2 separate regions of the Homo sapiens genome follow, and region 1 is linked to region 2. The links come from fine-mapping of genetic effects on gene expression. Tissue or cell type: hypothalamus. Region 2 holds a variant in brackets; the other region holds the start of a gene. All regions are shown on one strand. Distances are between the middles of the regions.

Region 1 (8,103 bases), 960 kb before region 2:
AGTGCTGGGATTACAGGTGTGAGCCACCGCGCCCAGCCTATCATTCTCTTTTCAATATAGTTTTACCCTGTATAAGGTAGGACTATATTATTTTTACTCCTAAATAATACATTGTGTGTTTTTCCATATTTTAAAACTTTAGGGTCGGGCGTGGTGGCTCACACCTGTAATCCCAGCACTTTGGGAGGCCGAGGTGGATGGATCACAAGGTCAGGAGTTCAAGACCAGCCTAGCCAAGATGGTGAAACCCTGTCTATACTAAAAACTACAAAAATTAGCCAGGTGCAGGCCGGGTGCAGTGGCTCACGCATGTAATCCCAGCACTTTGGGAGGCCGAGATGGGTGGATCACTTGAGGTCAGGAGTTTGAGACCAGCCTGACCAACATGGTAAAACCCCATCTCTACTAAAAATACAAAATATTAGCCAGCTGTGGTGGCGGGCGCCCGTAATCCCAGCTACTCAGGAGGCTGAGGCAGGAGAATTGCTTGAAACTGGGAGGCAGAGGTTGCAGTGAGCCGAGATCGCACCACTGTACTCCAGCCTGGGCGACAGAGTGAGACTCAGTCTTAAAAAAAAAAAAAAAAAAATTAGCTGGGTGTGGTGGCAGGTGCCTGTAATCCCAGCTACTCGGGAAGCTGAGGCAGGAGAATCGCTTGAACCCGGGCGGTAGAGGTTGCAGTGAGCCAAGATGGCGCCACTGCACTCCAGCCTGGGCGACAGAGCGAGACTCTGTCTCAAAAAAAAAAAAACAAAAAACAAAAAACAAACAAACAAAAAAACTTTAGGCAAATGGAATCATTCTCAATGGTTCCCCCCCGCCCCCAGATTGAACTGTTATTTGTAGCTCTAATTCTTTCATTTTCCCTGCTATAATATATTCTTCTATATGCATTTACTCTCATTTTTTTTTAAATCTACTCTTCTGTTTATGGACAGGTTATTCCTGCTTTCTGCCATTAAGAACAATGTTGCGTTACCTTACTGTAGACACTTGTTAATTACAAAAGAAAACAAATGAAGTAGGGAAAACAGACATCACCTTAATAAAGTGATCAAAATTAACACAGACAAGGGGTGGGCATTGTGTTATTTAGATTTTACACCTGAGACGGATGGCACATTGCTTCTGTGGCATTCTAGCCAAAGAGCTTAATCTGAATTTAGTCATGAGCTTAATCTGAATTTAGTCATGAGCTTAATCTGAATTTAGTCATGAGGAAACATCAGGAAAACCTCAAATGAGGAACTTTTTATAAAGTTAACTGGCCTGTGTTCTTTAAAAAAAAAAAAAAAAAAAGGCCAGGCGCGGTGGCTCATGCCTGTAATCCCAGCACTTTAGGAGGCCGAGGCAGGTGGATCATGAGGTCAGGAGTTTGAGACCAGACTGACCAATACGGTGAAACCAGTCTCTACTAAAAATACAAACATTAGCCTGGCATGGTGGCACGGGCCTGTAATCTTAGCTACTCAGGAGGCTGAGGCAGGAGAATCGCTTGAACCCTGGAGGTGGAGATTGCAGTGAGCTGAGATCATGCCATTGCACTCCAGCCTCTGCAGCAGAGCGAGACTCCATCTCAAAACAAAACAAAAAACAAAAAAAAGACTTTATTTTTTAGAGTGGTTTTAGATTCATAGCGAAACTGAGCGGAAACTACAGAGTTCAAATATACTCCATGACCCTACAACATGCGCAAGCTCCCCCACTGTCAATGTCTTGCACTAGAATGGTACATTTGTTACAATCAATGAACCTACATCAACACATCGTTATCACCCAAAGTCCGGTTTACATTAGGGCTCACTCTTAGTGTTGTACATATTATGGATTTTAACAAATGTATAGCATATATCCACCATTATACTATCATATAGAATAGTTTCACTGCTCCAATAATCCTGTCCTCTACCCATTCATTCCTCCCTTTCCATAATTCTCAGCAACCACTGATCCTTTTACTGTCTCCATAGTTTTGCCTTTTCCAGAATGTCATTTGGCTGGAATCACACAGTATGTAGCCTTTTCAGTTTGGCTTCTTTCAACCAGTAATATGCATTTAAGACTTCTCCATGTCTTTTCATGGCTTGATAGCTCATTTCTTTTTGGCTTGGAATAAAATTCCATTGTGTGTATATACCACAGTTTATGTATCCACTTACCCACTGAAGGACATCTTGGTTGATTCCAAGTTATGGTAATTGTGAATAAAGTTGCTACAAACATCCATTCGCAGGTGTGTGCATAAGTTTTAACCCATTTGGGTAAATACCAAGAAGTGCAATTTCTGGATTGTATGAGTAGAGTATGCCTAGTTTTGTAAGAAACGGCCCAACTGTCTTCTAAACTGTATGTACCATTTTGCATTGCCACTATCAATGAATGAGAGTTCCTGTTGCTCCACATCCTTGTCAGCATGTGACGTTGTCAGTGTTTTGGATTTTGTAGTGGTATCTCATTGCTGTTTTGGCCTATATTTTTCAAAAATGACAACGGCATGACAAGAAAAGCCGAGGAACCAGTTTAAAGGATATGAAATAGACTAGATGTAACAGTGATCACGGATGGACTGCATCCTAAGAGAAAAAAGTGCCATGAAAGACATAATTGGAACAGCTGACATAACCGGAAATGGAACATGATTAAAGTCTTCTATCAGTATTAAATTTCCTAAATTTGATTGTCTGGTAGTTTCATTCTTAGGACATACATACTGAAAGACTAAGGGGTTGGGCACGGTGGCTCACGCCTGTAATCCCAGCACTTTGGGAGGCAGAGGCAGGTAGATCACCTAAGGTCAGGAGTTCAAGAACAGCCTGGCCAACATGGCAAAACCTCATCTCTAGTAAAAAATAGAAAAATTAGCCAGGTATGGTGGTGTGTGCCTATGATCCCAGCTACTCGGGAGGCTAAGGCAGGGAGAATTGCTTGAACCCGGGAGGCGGAGGTTGCAGTGAGCCGAGATCGCGCCACTGCACTCCAGCCTGGGTGACAGGGCGAGACTCCGTCTCAAAAAAAAAAAAAGGAAAAAAAAAAAGAAAAAAAAAAGACTAACGGACAGTGGGCCTGATACATGCAACCTATCTCAAATGAGTCAGAAAAAAATGTAAAGATAGAAATGTGGTATAACGTTAGCAACTTGTGAATCTTGATGAAGGGTATATAGGAACTTTTTGTACTGTTTTTGCAGCTTTCTTGTAAATTATTTCAAGATTTAAAAGTTTAAAGATTTTTTAAAAGTGCTGCCATTAACATTCCATCCATATTTTTTGATGCACACGCGCAAGCTTCTCCAGCATATTCCACCGAATGGTGTTGCAGATTCATAAGGTGTGCACATCTTCAACCTGACTAGCTATACAGTTTACAAAGTGCTGACATCCTTATTAATTTTATTTTTGCACTGTCTTTTTCTCTCACTAAAATTTAAGGTTGGGCAGTGCTATTAAAAGTGCGGCCCTTGGGCCCGCAGCATTAGCCTCATCAGGGTGCTGGTTAAACACACAAATCGTCAGACCTCCACCCCAGACTTTCTGAATCAGAAACTCTGGGGGCACAGCCCAGGAATCTTCGTTTTCACAAACCTCCAAACGAATATAAAGATCGTAGATTATATAGACCGTAGGGCCGATGTATATAATCTATTAGGGCCGCGTCGGCCTTGCAGGCGGGTCTCCAAGTGAATGAGCGGCAGAGTCCCATCATGCGCATCAGCCTGCGTGAACCAGTGCGCAGCGCGCCTTTCCCGGGCACCCTCTAGGTGCTGGCAGCTGGCGCCCAGATCCCCCGGCTGGGTGGGGAGGGGCGGCCGGACGGGGCGGGCCGGAGGCTGGCGTCCCCGCCCCGAAAGCACTGGGCCCGCCGCGTCGCACCGTCCTCTTTCCTTTCCTTCTCCCTCCCCTTTTCCCTTCCTTCGTCCCTTCCTTCCTTCCTTTCGCCGGGCGCGATGGAGCCGGGGCGCCGGGGGGCCGCGGCGCTGCTAGCGCTGCTGTGCGTGGCCTGCGCGCTGCGCGCCGGGCGCGCCCAATACGAACGCTACAGCTTCCGCAGCTTCCCACGGGACGAGCTGATGCCGCTCGAGTCGGCCTACCGGCACGCGCTGGACAAGTACAGCGGCGAGCACTGGGCCGAGAGCGTGGGCTACCTGGAGATCAGCCTGCGGCTGCACCGCTTGCTGCGCGACAGCGAGGCCTTCTGCCACCGCAACTGCAGCGCCGCGCCGCAGCCCGAGCCCGCCGCCGGCCTCGCCAGCTATCCCGAGCTGCGCCTCTTCGGGGGCCTGCTGCGCCGCGCGCACTGCCTCAAGCGCTGCAAGCAGGGCCTGCCAGCCTTCCGCCAGTCCCAGCCCAGCCGCGAGGTGCTGGCGGACTTCCAGCGCCGCGAGCCCTACAAGTTCCTGCAGTTCGCTTACTTCAAGGCAAGTCCGCCTCGCCCCGTCCCAGGCCCCGGCCCCGCCCCTGACCCAGCCTCCAGGCCCTAGCCCCGCCCCTGCGCCCGGGGCCGCGTTGCCCCTCCAGTTCTAGACCTGGCTCCCTCCCATCCAGCCCTGCCAAAGGTCTCCTCCAAGTCCTGTCTCCTTCTTCATCTCAACTAGAGATGAAAATGCCTTTCTTGAAGGGTAACTCTAAGGTAGAGAATACGTACACAGAACGCAGTACAGCGCCAGGCACCCAACAAAGTGCCTGATAAATGTTCTCTGTTATTTGAGGGCAGACGCCTCTTTTCTGTATATACCATTAAAGTCGCCTTTTTTCTCAAGTGAGCGGTGACTTGCGATAATAAAGCAGAAGACCTGAGGAGCCGACAAGTACCTTTTATTTTTATTTTTTGTTGAGACAGGGTCTCACAGTCGCCCAGGCTGGAGTGCAGAGGCGCTATCATGGCTCACTGCAGCCTTGACCTCCTCAGGCTCAGGTGATCCTCCACCTCAGCCTCCTGAGTAGCTGGGATTATAGGCGCGCGCCACCACACCTAGCTAATTTTTTGGTATTTTCTGTAGAGACAGAGTTTCGCCACGTTGCCCAGGCTGATCTCGAACTCCCGGACTCAAGTGATCCTCCCACCTCGCCTCCCAGAGTTCTGGGATTACAGTCGTGAGCCATTGCACCCAGCTGACTAGTTCCTTTTAAAGAGGATGAAATTGAGGCCAGGGAAGGGCAGGGACTCCTTGCAAGGACACATCCCTGCTTAAAGGGGAACTCGTGCACCGTGAGTCATCAGGATTGGCCCTCTCCGCTGTTTCTCTCTTTCATCTAGAATTTAACACAGTTCACTGCCTCCTTTTAATGGCTGCTTAAGTTCTCTCTGTGATTGCTGGCTAAAAATAGCCACAAATTGCAGTTCTCTATCCTATGGGTTCTCACTCCGAGGACCCACAAGTTTTAAGAATGGTTAGATTCCCTGTCACTAGATAAAGAGGCTCTAGCTTGGTGGGTCCTCACAGGGTTTGGCTAAAAGAGCCCTCTCAAAGCCCAGTTTCTACTTTCTCTGAGAAAGATTTTAAAAGGAATATATTGTGTTTTTTAAAATTACTACAAAAATAGATTCATGGCATATCCTAGACTCTTGAGGTAGAAGGTTTTTGTTTTTAAACTTTGTTTTCAGTTTCTGGACTGCAAGATCTGTTTTTTCAGATTTCCACCGAGACAGAGCCACGTGTATATTGTATTTATATGAGCAATAAAATAACACAAAACCCCAAAGAGGGGAAAAGCTGGGTTACTTCTATACTTCTATGCTTAGTTACAGTTTTATTTAAAGTATCAGTTTTGTGAATGTTTGTTCTGGCAATTAAAAAAAAACAGTTTTAAAACAGAAGCAGGGAATGAGATTAATAAAATTCCAGAATGTTGAAAATGAGGGCTGGTTCATACAAAGCATCATTTTTTAAGCTAAAAATGACTTATCTAATTCTTTTTTTGTATAGCTTTTGGCAAATATGTTCTGAACCAAATTTAGGTCACATAATCAAGAGGAAATCATTTTATTTTTAAACCTAGAGAATACTAGAACCTCTGATTTCTTTAATATACAGATGAATTTGAACAAGTGTTACAGGGAAGAGGGGAAGAACATTTTACTCAATGTGACCAAAAGGCATGGGTTTTCTCTTTCATCATGGTGGCCCCAAAAGGTTAGGATGGTCATAGCTTCTCTTCAAAACCCTTTACAGGTCTTGTAACAATCACTTAGTTGAAAGTCAGTAAAATACTATCTATCTATCTGTCTATCTATCTGTTTTTTTTGAGACACAGTTTCACTTTGTCACCCAGACTGGAATGCAGTGGCACGATCTCAGCTCGCTGCAACCTCTGCCTCCAGGGTGCAAGCAATTCTTGTATCTCAGCCTCCTGAGTAGCTGGGATTACGGGCATGTGCCACCACACCCAGCTAATTTTTGTATTTTTAGTAGAGATGGGGTTTCACCATGTTGGCCAGGCTGGTCTCGAACTTCTAACCTCAAGTGATCCACCTACCTTGGCCTCCCAAAATGCTGAGATTACAGTCTGGGATTTGAACCACCATGCCCGGCCACCATCTTAACATTTTGAGATCTCATATAGGGCAGGAAAAAGCTAAGAATTTTATTAATAAACGTGAATGTTACTTAATTGTTTCAATGGAAGATATAACTGAAAAAGTAATTTTTGGTGGAGATATTGTATGGTGTATTTTTTCTCAATGATGTTTATGGCTTGGCATGATGGCTCATGCCTATAATCCCAGCACTTTGGGATGCCAAGGTGGGAGGATCTCTTGAGTCCAAGAGTTCAAGACCAGCCTGGGCAATATAATGAGATCTCATCTGTACAAAAACATTAAAAAATTAGCCGGGTGTGGTGGCGTGCCTTTCTAGTTTCAGCTACTCAGGAGGCTGAGGCTGGAGGATCACTTGAGCCCAGAAAGTCAAGGCTGCAGTGAGCTGTGATCTTACCACTGCACTCCAGCCTGGGTGACAGAACAAGACTCTTGTGTCAAAAAAAAGTGATGTTTACGTGTTTAAACTCTGTTTATGGATAGAGAGGAAAAGATGGGTGGCAGGCACATACATTCTACCTGGCACCTGAAGGCTGGAGGTCGATATGAAGGTAGATAGTGCGCTGTGGCAGGACATGGATAAATGTTACTCTGCTGTTCTGAGTTGCAGTTCTCTGTTTCAGTGATTAAGGAGAAATGCCTCAATTGATCACTGGAATAGCAATGGTGGGTTCCGACTGCCAGAGGGAGGCGAGGAGGTTTGGATGTGTGCTCTTGTAGAAAAGGGCTGTGCTACTGGTGTGCAGCCTCAGGTGCATCATAGGTTTCTCGTCACCAGCCTACTCTAGGTCCATGTCATTAGCTTTCTTTGGGTTCTCTCCACAATTACCATCTTCCACGAAAAACTCATTTTTCTCATAGGCCAAGCAAAAAGTAGGCCGGAGCACTTCATCAAATCCTTAATGACTGTTGAGCTCTAACCTGGACAGAGAACACTGACTCACAGGCACTGTTAACCCCAGGCCTTGCCTGGCTGTGGCCTCTAACTCCCCGGAACCACAGGGCCTGCCTCTGTGTCATGGCTGATTTAGGGTGGCTCATGCTGGTGGCTGTATCTCAGGAACCCAAGGCAAGGTGGTTCCCTCCATCCCTACCACCTTCTCCAAAATCTGCCTGGGGTCTGTCAGAGGTTTGGTAGCCAAGATGTGTCTCCATGTTCCAGCTGCAGAGCCTGAGTTGAAGTAAATAAAATCACTCTTTTCTCTTCAGGAAGAGATTCCGTTTTGTAAAACATCCTAAGTTAGAAGCCTTAAAAATCCTACTCTGTGCCCCTCTTTCTATTCCTTTCTTTCTTTCTTTCTTTCTTTTTTGAGACGGAATCTCACTGTGTCACCCAGACTGGAGTGCAGTGGTGCGATCCTGGCTCACTGCAACCTCCGCCCCCCGGGTTCAAGTGATTCTCCTGCCTCAGCCTCCCGAGTAGCTGGGATTACAAGCACCTGCCACTGTGCCTGGCTAATTTTTGTCTTTTTAGTAGAGATGGGGTTTCATCATCTTGGCCAGGCTGATCTTGGACTCCTGACCTCGTGATCCACCCACCTCGACCTCCTAAAGTGCTGGGATTACAGG
Region 2 (8,103 bases):
GAAATCTGTAACAATTTTGAATATCTGATTATCTTGATAATGGATTGGGAGATCACAGGAAACTTTTATGTGTTGTTCCAAAGCATTGAGCACATTGAAATCTACATATACACATCCATTAAAAACATGGTATGGAAAGGGCAGAACTTTAGTATTCTTTACTGTATGTAAAGCCTCATAGTTTAGCTGAAATAAGCTTTGTACTTTGTATTTGTTTCTGAAGTCTCAATCTAGGTCTTGGTTATCAGACTTTTTTTCTGCAATAAAGAAACCAATGAAGCTTTGAATGAACAACAACAACAAAAAGATCTTAGGAAGACAATGTGGCCACTCGTACTCCAGCCACATTCAACTCGGGAGAAAAATATTAATAAGGGTGCTGAGAGCAGTTCCAGTGATCCTCAAGGGCTTATGGCTTTTAGAAGGGCAAAAGTTTGGCATAAAACTTGCTAGGGAGCCAGGGACCAAAAGGCTACAAGTTTCTGCTGAGAATCAGAGCACAGCCTTTCTGCATCCTGGGGCTTGGCTTGCCTCCTACCCTTTCTTGCTTCCTGCACCACTCTGTATTCTTCCCATTCCCAACCCTTCCACCACAGGCTTTTGGCACCATTACCCAATAAGATAGGAGAGAAAAAAGCCAGTAGAAGGCTGGGAGGTGCGCAGGAGTCCCTTTGGAATGGGTTTCCCTCCTTCCCTCTTTGAAAATGAAGGAAGTGCCTCAAAGAAAACAACACTTTGTTCCCTTCTCTCATCTCACACGGTCTGAAATTTGCTTTCTTCCAAACAATACCCAATTCTTTTATTTGTGTTTCCTTTCTGGCCCTCTATTTATACAAGGTATTTCTATTGTTTTTCTTGCCGTCTCTCTCTTTCTGGTGCTGCCTCTGACTCTGTTTCTTCCTCCTCTTCCTTTTTCTCCCTCTAGTTTCTAGCTTGTATCTGGCCCTGCTGAGAAAACATAATACTGTCTTATTTGTGATTCTGCAGTCATTTCCATGGCAACCGACCCATGGCCCAGGTATGAGTCTGTGCCTTCGCCATAGTACTGTTCAAGAGAAAAGGCCTTTATTAAAGCTGAGTGCCAGCAGTTTCCCTCCTGCAGCCCTTGCCAAGAGAGGAATTTCTTCAGGACTCAAAGAAGGGACACAGAAGTCAAACACAGGGTTCCCAGGTTTCTCAAAATTTCTCCAGTGTAAATGAACCCCCCTCAGCCTGCCTCACGTACATGCACACGTAGGCACACCCACACACACAGGCACACACCACTTCTATTTCTGGACCTATAGCCACAGAGGGTATTTTTCTTTTGAAGGGAATCAGCTTTGATGCTGTGGCCTGGAACAAAAGCTTATGTTTGAAATGAGAGATGGGCTCAGCTGTTTAAGCCTCCTGTGTGTAGAATGCGGGGTTGGGAGAGAGCTGGGACAATGGCAAGGACAAGGATGGATAAAGCTTATGAGGGTCGTGATGTGGGAATATGGAAAAGATTTTAGAGCCCCTAACTCAATGATGAACAAGAGAGATAGGGAGAAAAAAGGATTTCGATGGAGTTTTTAAAACAGGAGCTCGTGAAATGTTTGCTATTGTGTAATGTGACTTATACACAGTAAAATGATATGACATGACAAGGGAGAATTACATCTTTCCTCAGGTGCCTCTCTCCCATTTTCTGCCCTTTTTCTGTGGATCACTACGTTTTGTTCCCTTTCACTTTTGTCTGGGTCAAAGGAATATCATTTTGGGAAGATGCTAGAAACAGTCTATTTCTAAGGCCCCTCTTCCCTCCTTTGCCCTCCCTCCCACTGGAGCGCTTGAATCCAGATAAAGAGAAGACAAAGGAAGGGTCTCTCTCCCATCCCTCCTGAGAAATGTCTGCACATTAAAAACAAATGGAACCTGCTTACAACCTGGAGCCAAGAGGGTGTTCTGGGTTTCTACTACAACCAAGATGAGTTAATCTTTATTAAGCAGATGTATAGAGGACCAGCTTGTCTCCATAACATCTCCACGGCCTTCCGCTTCCCATTTCTTTTATTGATCTGCCTGTCTAAATGAGTACTTCTAAACTCGGTGGGAGTTTTCCAATTAGATAAAAGGCAATTCATGTCGCCTGCTGCCTCCGTGCTGCACTAACAGCCCCAAACTAAGAGAGCATATTCAAGACTTCTTGGCAGAACAACCTGCTTTAATCAAGGCGGCCCCCTCCTGAGCGCCCTCATCTGCAGGACATTTCTCTGAATATGTGAAGGTTTTCTTTATTGGAGGTTGAGAAAAATGGGCTTCTTTTCCAGGAGTGGGGGTTTCAAGGTACCCTGTGTAGTTAATGAAGAAGTGCATAGGCCCACTCTCTGGGCTGGTGTTTCAGAAAAGGCATTTTGGCAAGCCTTTTTGGAACAAACTGCAACTTGAGGGTCTTCAGATGTGTGAGACTTCTGCTAGGAGCAGACCTTGCGGCTTTGGACTCTCACAGCCTCCTGGGGTCCTCCTGTGCCTGGATGAGTTGTAGCTCAGGTAGGCAGTGTTCTAAGGGCTCCATCTGCTGTGAGGAGGGCCAAAGAGAGGATGGAGGGGTGGTGCCACAGAAGTGAGCCCTTCTATCCCAGGCTGTGCATCATTGTCCATTGGCGAATACAGGTGGTCCAAAGCCTGGACACCAGCAGGGGCCTCCCATGACCCACTGTAGCTGGTCCAAGCCTTCTGCCTGAAGTTCAAGGTCTTTTTGCAAGGCAGCCTTGCCTCTTCTCCTTCTTAACCCTCTCTGTCCTGGCCTGGCTCATCTTCCACATAGCTAGGCTGGTATATTTTGTGACTTTGGGTCATCCTTTTTTTCTACCTTAAAGGGCTGCCCTCCTCACCCAGAGAAGGAAAGTCTCAGCTTTCCATCTCTCTTCCACCTCCAGGTTTCTTTCATCCTGTTAGTATTGTCTCACTTATTGCTTGGTCACTAATTAGAGCTACTACCCTTTATTGAGTGCTTGCCATGTGTCAGGCACTGTGTTGGGGTGTTTATGTGTAATTAACAAAGCCAAACTTCACAATGTCCCTATAAATAGGTGCTATTACTACCCCTCATTTTATGGATGAA[G/A]AAACTGAGGCAAATCACCTTGCTAAAGGCCAGATAAGCACTGAAATCACATCTGTGTGATTCCAAAATTCTTAGAATTTAGCATGCCTAGGCAAGGATGAATAATAATCATAAACGTAGTGAAAATAAGTTGTTTGTGTTTGAAGTCACATAGCACAACCCATGTTAGCAGAACATAAGGTTAGCAACAATGATCTTTGACTGTGCAGCCTTCTCAGGTAAAATGGCTAGGCTCTCCCAATTTCCTTCTACCTCTAAAGCACCTGCATTTTTGTTGGAGACTAATAAAGCTTTCCTATAGCCACTCTATGGGAAAATCTCTGTGACAGGGCCTGGGGACCCCATTTAGGAAACTATGGGAGGTCTAGTTGGTATCTAATTGGCAAAGGATTTGCTTCCCTTAAGTTTTGTAGCTCCCAAAGGGAAAGACTTAGATCTTTAGAATTTTTTTTGAAACAGGGTCTCACTCGAGTGTCCTGGCTGGAGTGCAGTGGTGCAGTCTTGGCTCACTGCAACCTCTGCCTTCTGGATTCAAGCAATAGTCCTGCCTCAGCCTCCTGAGTAGCTGGGACCATAGGCACACACCTTGCCTGGCTGATTTTTGTATATTTTGTAGAGAAGGGGTTTCACTGAGCTCAAGTGATTCTCCCACCTTGGCCTCCAAAAGCTCTGGGATTACAGGTGTAAACCACCATGACCAGCTTAGATATTTTTTATAGCTTCCTCTCTCTCAAGGAATGTAGGCCAAGTTGCTCTGAGAGGCGGTTGGGGGCATTTACAAACATTGCTCTCAAAAGTGGTCAGCTCTGCCAACCTCAAACAAATGCTTCAGAAAAGAGTGCAGCCTCCTCAGTTCAGACCTCCTCTTTCTCCAGAGAAGTTTCTTGTTTTCCACAGGCAGGAAGCATCTTTGTTCTTTCTGTTTTCTCAGGATTCTCCATTCTGGTGTTCTGGAATTCACCTACTAGTCTCAAAAATTGCACTTTGCCATTCTTCCCAAAGGGCAGACAGGTTCTATACAAACAAGGTTTTTGGCAGTTAGTGCTGGGAGGTCAGACCCATCTAGTCTGATGTGGTGATAGGTGCCCTCCTTCACACCCCCACCTTCAGTTGATTTTTGCAGCTGCTTGACAGAACCTAGAAGGCAGGGGAGGTAGCCAGGTTCTTCTGTGGCCACCACTGGTACCTGATTACTGGGCTTGCTGAGCACTGGGCTGGGTATGGAGATGTCCAATAACCACTGTCTGTGTTGGCACAATGTGAACCCAAAGCAAAGTTGAAGGTTAAGGCAAGGAATGTGGTAGAGGTCGTCGATCGCGAGATGACTTTGCCATTGAGTCATACCCTTCTCTTCCATTTCTGCTTCTGGCTCAGCATTTGAGTAATCCAGACCCAGCCTAGGCAGTGGAGCATCTCCATTAGCTCTCCCCTTCCCTTCTCTTCCCCTCTTGCACTCACAGCACAGCCTCAGGAGAGGCACAGCTGGATTTACACTTGCCTGTATTGCTTTGGTGGACAAAACTAGGTCTTTCTGTGACCCACGATAATCACACTGTCTGTATGAGGAGAGCCAGGGTGGTGAGGAATGAGACTCCTCTTGAATACTGAATTTCTGGGTCTTGACTTCTCAGCAGTGGCATCTTCTTTCCTGGCAGGCATTGTCACATTATCGTTTCAGCTGCACCTGGGGAATGAAAGCCAGAGAATGATGTGGCTGCATTGTTCAGAAGCCTCAGGCACCTGCTGTTCAGAATTTCCATGAAGCCACTGCAGAAGGCTCTGGAAAGAGGCATTTGACCTTCCCTTACATCAGAAGACAGAAGAGCCAGGGACTAGCATTGGAAATAGAGCCTATTCTAGCTGGAAGGATTCACCTTTGCTCTTGGGAAGAAAAGGAAGTGTTTGAAGATTTAGTAAATCTTCTGTTCATTATCAAGCCCCAGCAGGACTTTATGATAATTTTTATAACTTCTTCATTCAAAACTCTAGGTGCTATGAAGGTTAATAACTTGTGTTTATCAAAACTTCCCTTCAAGGAACTCAGAGAGCTTTGTAGACATTATCTAATTCAGCAGCACCACAGGACAAGGAAACAGGAAAGGGGGAGAGGATGAACAGACAAAATTATTCCAATTTAGGAGAACTGATAATATTAATAGCTCCAACAGGGAGTTTAAGTGAGTTTTGGAAATCACAGTACAATTTGTAAGCCATCCAGGAGGAGGTCTCTTCACCCCCAGCACTGGCTGCTTCAGACCACCATCCAGTTCCACCGCTGTCAGTGGGAGGGAGATGGGACACTCGAATACAATTTTCTCATCTGTAAAGTGGGGCAATAAGTCTTATTTTTTGGCATTGTTGTGAGATTTAGTAAGGTAAAGGAGTAAAGGTACCAGCACGGTGATTGGCATTTTGTTAGTGCTCGATGAATATCACCTCCCCATGCCCCACTTTCTAGGCAGCCACAGAATATTTTCCTGGTTGACTGAAGGAGCAAATTGCATGTCTTGTACTCTGCTGAGTATGAGGAAGAAATGTGGGATGCAGGGATTATTTGAGGATAAGGGAACAGTTGTCATTTCTCACCTCTGGAAATTCTGACGTCCAAAGGGCACAGCCTAATAATGTGAGAAAACTGACCCTCCCTCCCTGAAACCTTGAGCAAAAAGAGCACATATCTGAGTAGAAAGTGAAATGGAGATTTGAAGTAATTTTATGGTTAATTGGACTGGGGGTGAAAAAAAAAGCCTCTGCCTGAATTGTCTTTGGCTTTCCAGGGTTGAGTCATTTGTGGAGGTTTACATTGCTCAGCTCATTACACCAGTCTTCCATTTTGCTCTCACTGGAAAAGGAAGCTTCCATGAGTAGGCACTTGACCTGTGTCTGGTTTGGAGTATTCAAGAATGGCTAGAGATCTCCAATTTTAAGGCAGGAAATGGCTTGAAAGATCTTCCTCCCAAGATCCACAAATAAGGATGAGTGGTACCGCAACCCTATTTAGTATCTGTGACTTTTTGGGGTCTTAAAAGTCATATGGAGAAGAGAAAAGGAAGGACTCATACAACCAAAGGTCCTTAGGAGCTTTACTGGTGTCCTCATGACCAACCAGTGTGGGGAGCCAGGGCTTGGACTGCTCCCAACCAGGCTCTCCCATTGCATATTCTGAACAAGACCTGGGTAAGAAAATGAAACACTCCTCTTTTGTTGGTTTCTTTGTCATTTTCACACTAATTTTAGCCCTGGTTCATCCATGCATATCAGGTGGGATTACTGTGGGGCAGCAGAAGCTTTTGGCTTACAGTCAGAGGTCTGAAGTTCCTTTTGTTTCCTCCTACAGAAGCTTGTCTGTCTTTGGCACACTCTAGCCCTGGAGGGCTTTGCCAGATATCTAGCCATCAATGGTATTGCTTGAATTTACCTTCTCTTGTCCTGCATCTTAAAGCAAATAAATTTTGTACTTACATGTGTTAGCTAGTGAAAAGACAAAAGCACACTGTGCCAAGGCAAAAGGGATGGTAGAGCACTGCCAGGTGGTTGTGGTGATAGGGAAATGATGACTAGAAATATGGATGTCATGTAGCTTAATCTAGGGGGCCAACTTTTCACCTAATGAGAGTGCAGAATTGCTGTCTCAATTTGAATGGGAGCCATGCTGAGCATTAAGGCCATTTTACTGATGCCACATTGCAAACACAGTGAAGACACAAAAGAAGACAAAAGTTTTGTTTTGCTGCTAAGTAGGCCTTTCCTCTTCTCTTCAGATTACAATTATTATTCAAAGTTTAGAAGAGGAAGTAAATATACTCATTGAAATGTTCTTTGCTAGCCTCACCTTGAAGCCACACAGATTGCTCTAGCATCTTAAGACAAATTTCTTTCCTGGGTATTACCTAGAGAGTGATGAAAACTACTTTCCCTGGCTCTCAGCTGAGGCCTCAGAGCCAGGCGGAAAGCTGTTCTGAGACCCTTACCTCTGAATGTCTCAATTCCAGTAGTTTTAAATCTCAGCCATAAATGTTTCAGAAGAGTGTCTTTTTTTTTTTTTTTTTTGCACTGGAGGTGTATATTCAGTGATTTAATGACCCATCCTGTGACCTAGTATTGCTATTGCTGTTGAATGTATAATTCTCTACTTGAAGATGGGCTTTGTTTTTCATCAGTCTCCTAGGCTTTAATTGGAGAATGTCTCACGAAATGCATAAAGAACAGGTGCTTAGGACTCATGCAGCAATTAGGAGGGAGATCCGGGTTATCATCCAACAAAGCGGCATCCTCTAGGGCTGGGAGTTGAGAGGAGGCTGAGTGAAGAGCTGGATTTGGCTCCTAATTTAATGAGCATTAAGTTAAACTAAAATTAGTAGTGTGCATTGTGGAACCTGTGAAATAGAGGAAGAAAAACCACATGTAGTTCAAGACCAGTACTGGAGGGCCTTGGCAAAGCTGCTAGCAAATAGGTGTGGCCAGGGTTGGTTGTGTGGTCTCAGGTCCACACCTGATTGGCCATGGACAATTAACCCAAGTCCTAGGCCATCTGCCAGGTGGTTTGCTAGACCCTGGGTAGTTGCAATGTGAGGATCTGTTTGAATGCTTAGCAAGTTATGTTCTTTCTGATTGAAAGGTCACTGACTTGTCCTGAGGGAGAGAGACTTCTAGAGCCAGTACATGTAAGCATTCCTCCCTTCCCTACTAGTCCAAATCTGTCCTTGATTGCTTCCCAAAGATTTGGAAATTTCTTTCTCTGAAAAGTTATTGTGCATTCATTCATTTACTTATTTATCAAATACCTTTTGAAAGCTATGTACTAGATAGAATGTTGGAAATAGAGTGATGAACAAACACAGTCCTACTCCAAGGATTTGGTGCCTGGTGGGGAAGACAGGTGCATCTACAGACGCTTTCCATCTGAGGGTAGTAATTGCTAGGATGGTTGTTTTCACACGTGAAGGGAAGAATTTAACTCAGTCTCTCTTTCTCTCTTTCTCTCTCTGTGTGTGTGTGTGTGTGTGTGTGTGTGTGTG

Evidence for each region. PIP is the estimated chance that this variant, and not a neighbour inherited with it, causes the effect.
Region 1: CRTAP starts here. The variant in region 2 is fine-mapped to the expression of CRTAP in hypothalamus (GTEx, PIP 0.95).

What each region holds. Positions count from the first base shown.
Region 1 is chr3:33,110,135-33,118,237 of GRCh38, forward strand. It overlaps CRTAP (cartilage associated protein), which reads left to right and starts at 3,880. Exons shown (of 7, transcript NM_006371.5): 1 at 3,880-4,414. The coding sequence starts at 3,944. RefSeq lists enhancers at 1,501-1,710, 4,591-5,582 and silencers at 3,710-4,009, 4,450-4,639, 6,166-6,314.
Region 2 is chr3:34,066,614-34,074,716 of GRCh38, forward strand. No RefSeq gene overlaps it. Among named protein-coding and RNA genes, the nearest start is that of LINC01811, 89 kb to the right of the region's middle. The variant G/A (reference allele first, on the strand shown) is at 3,086.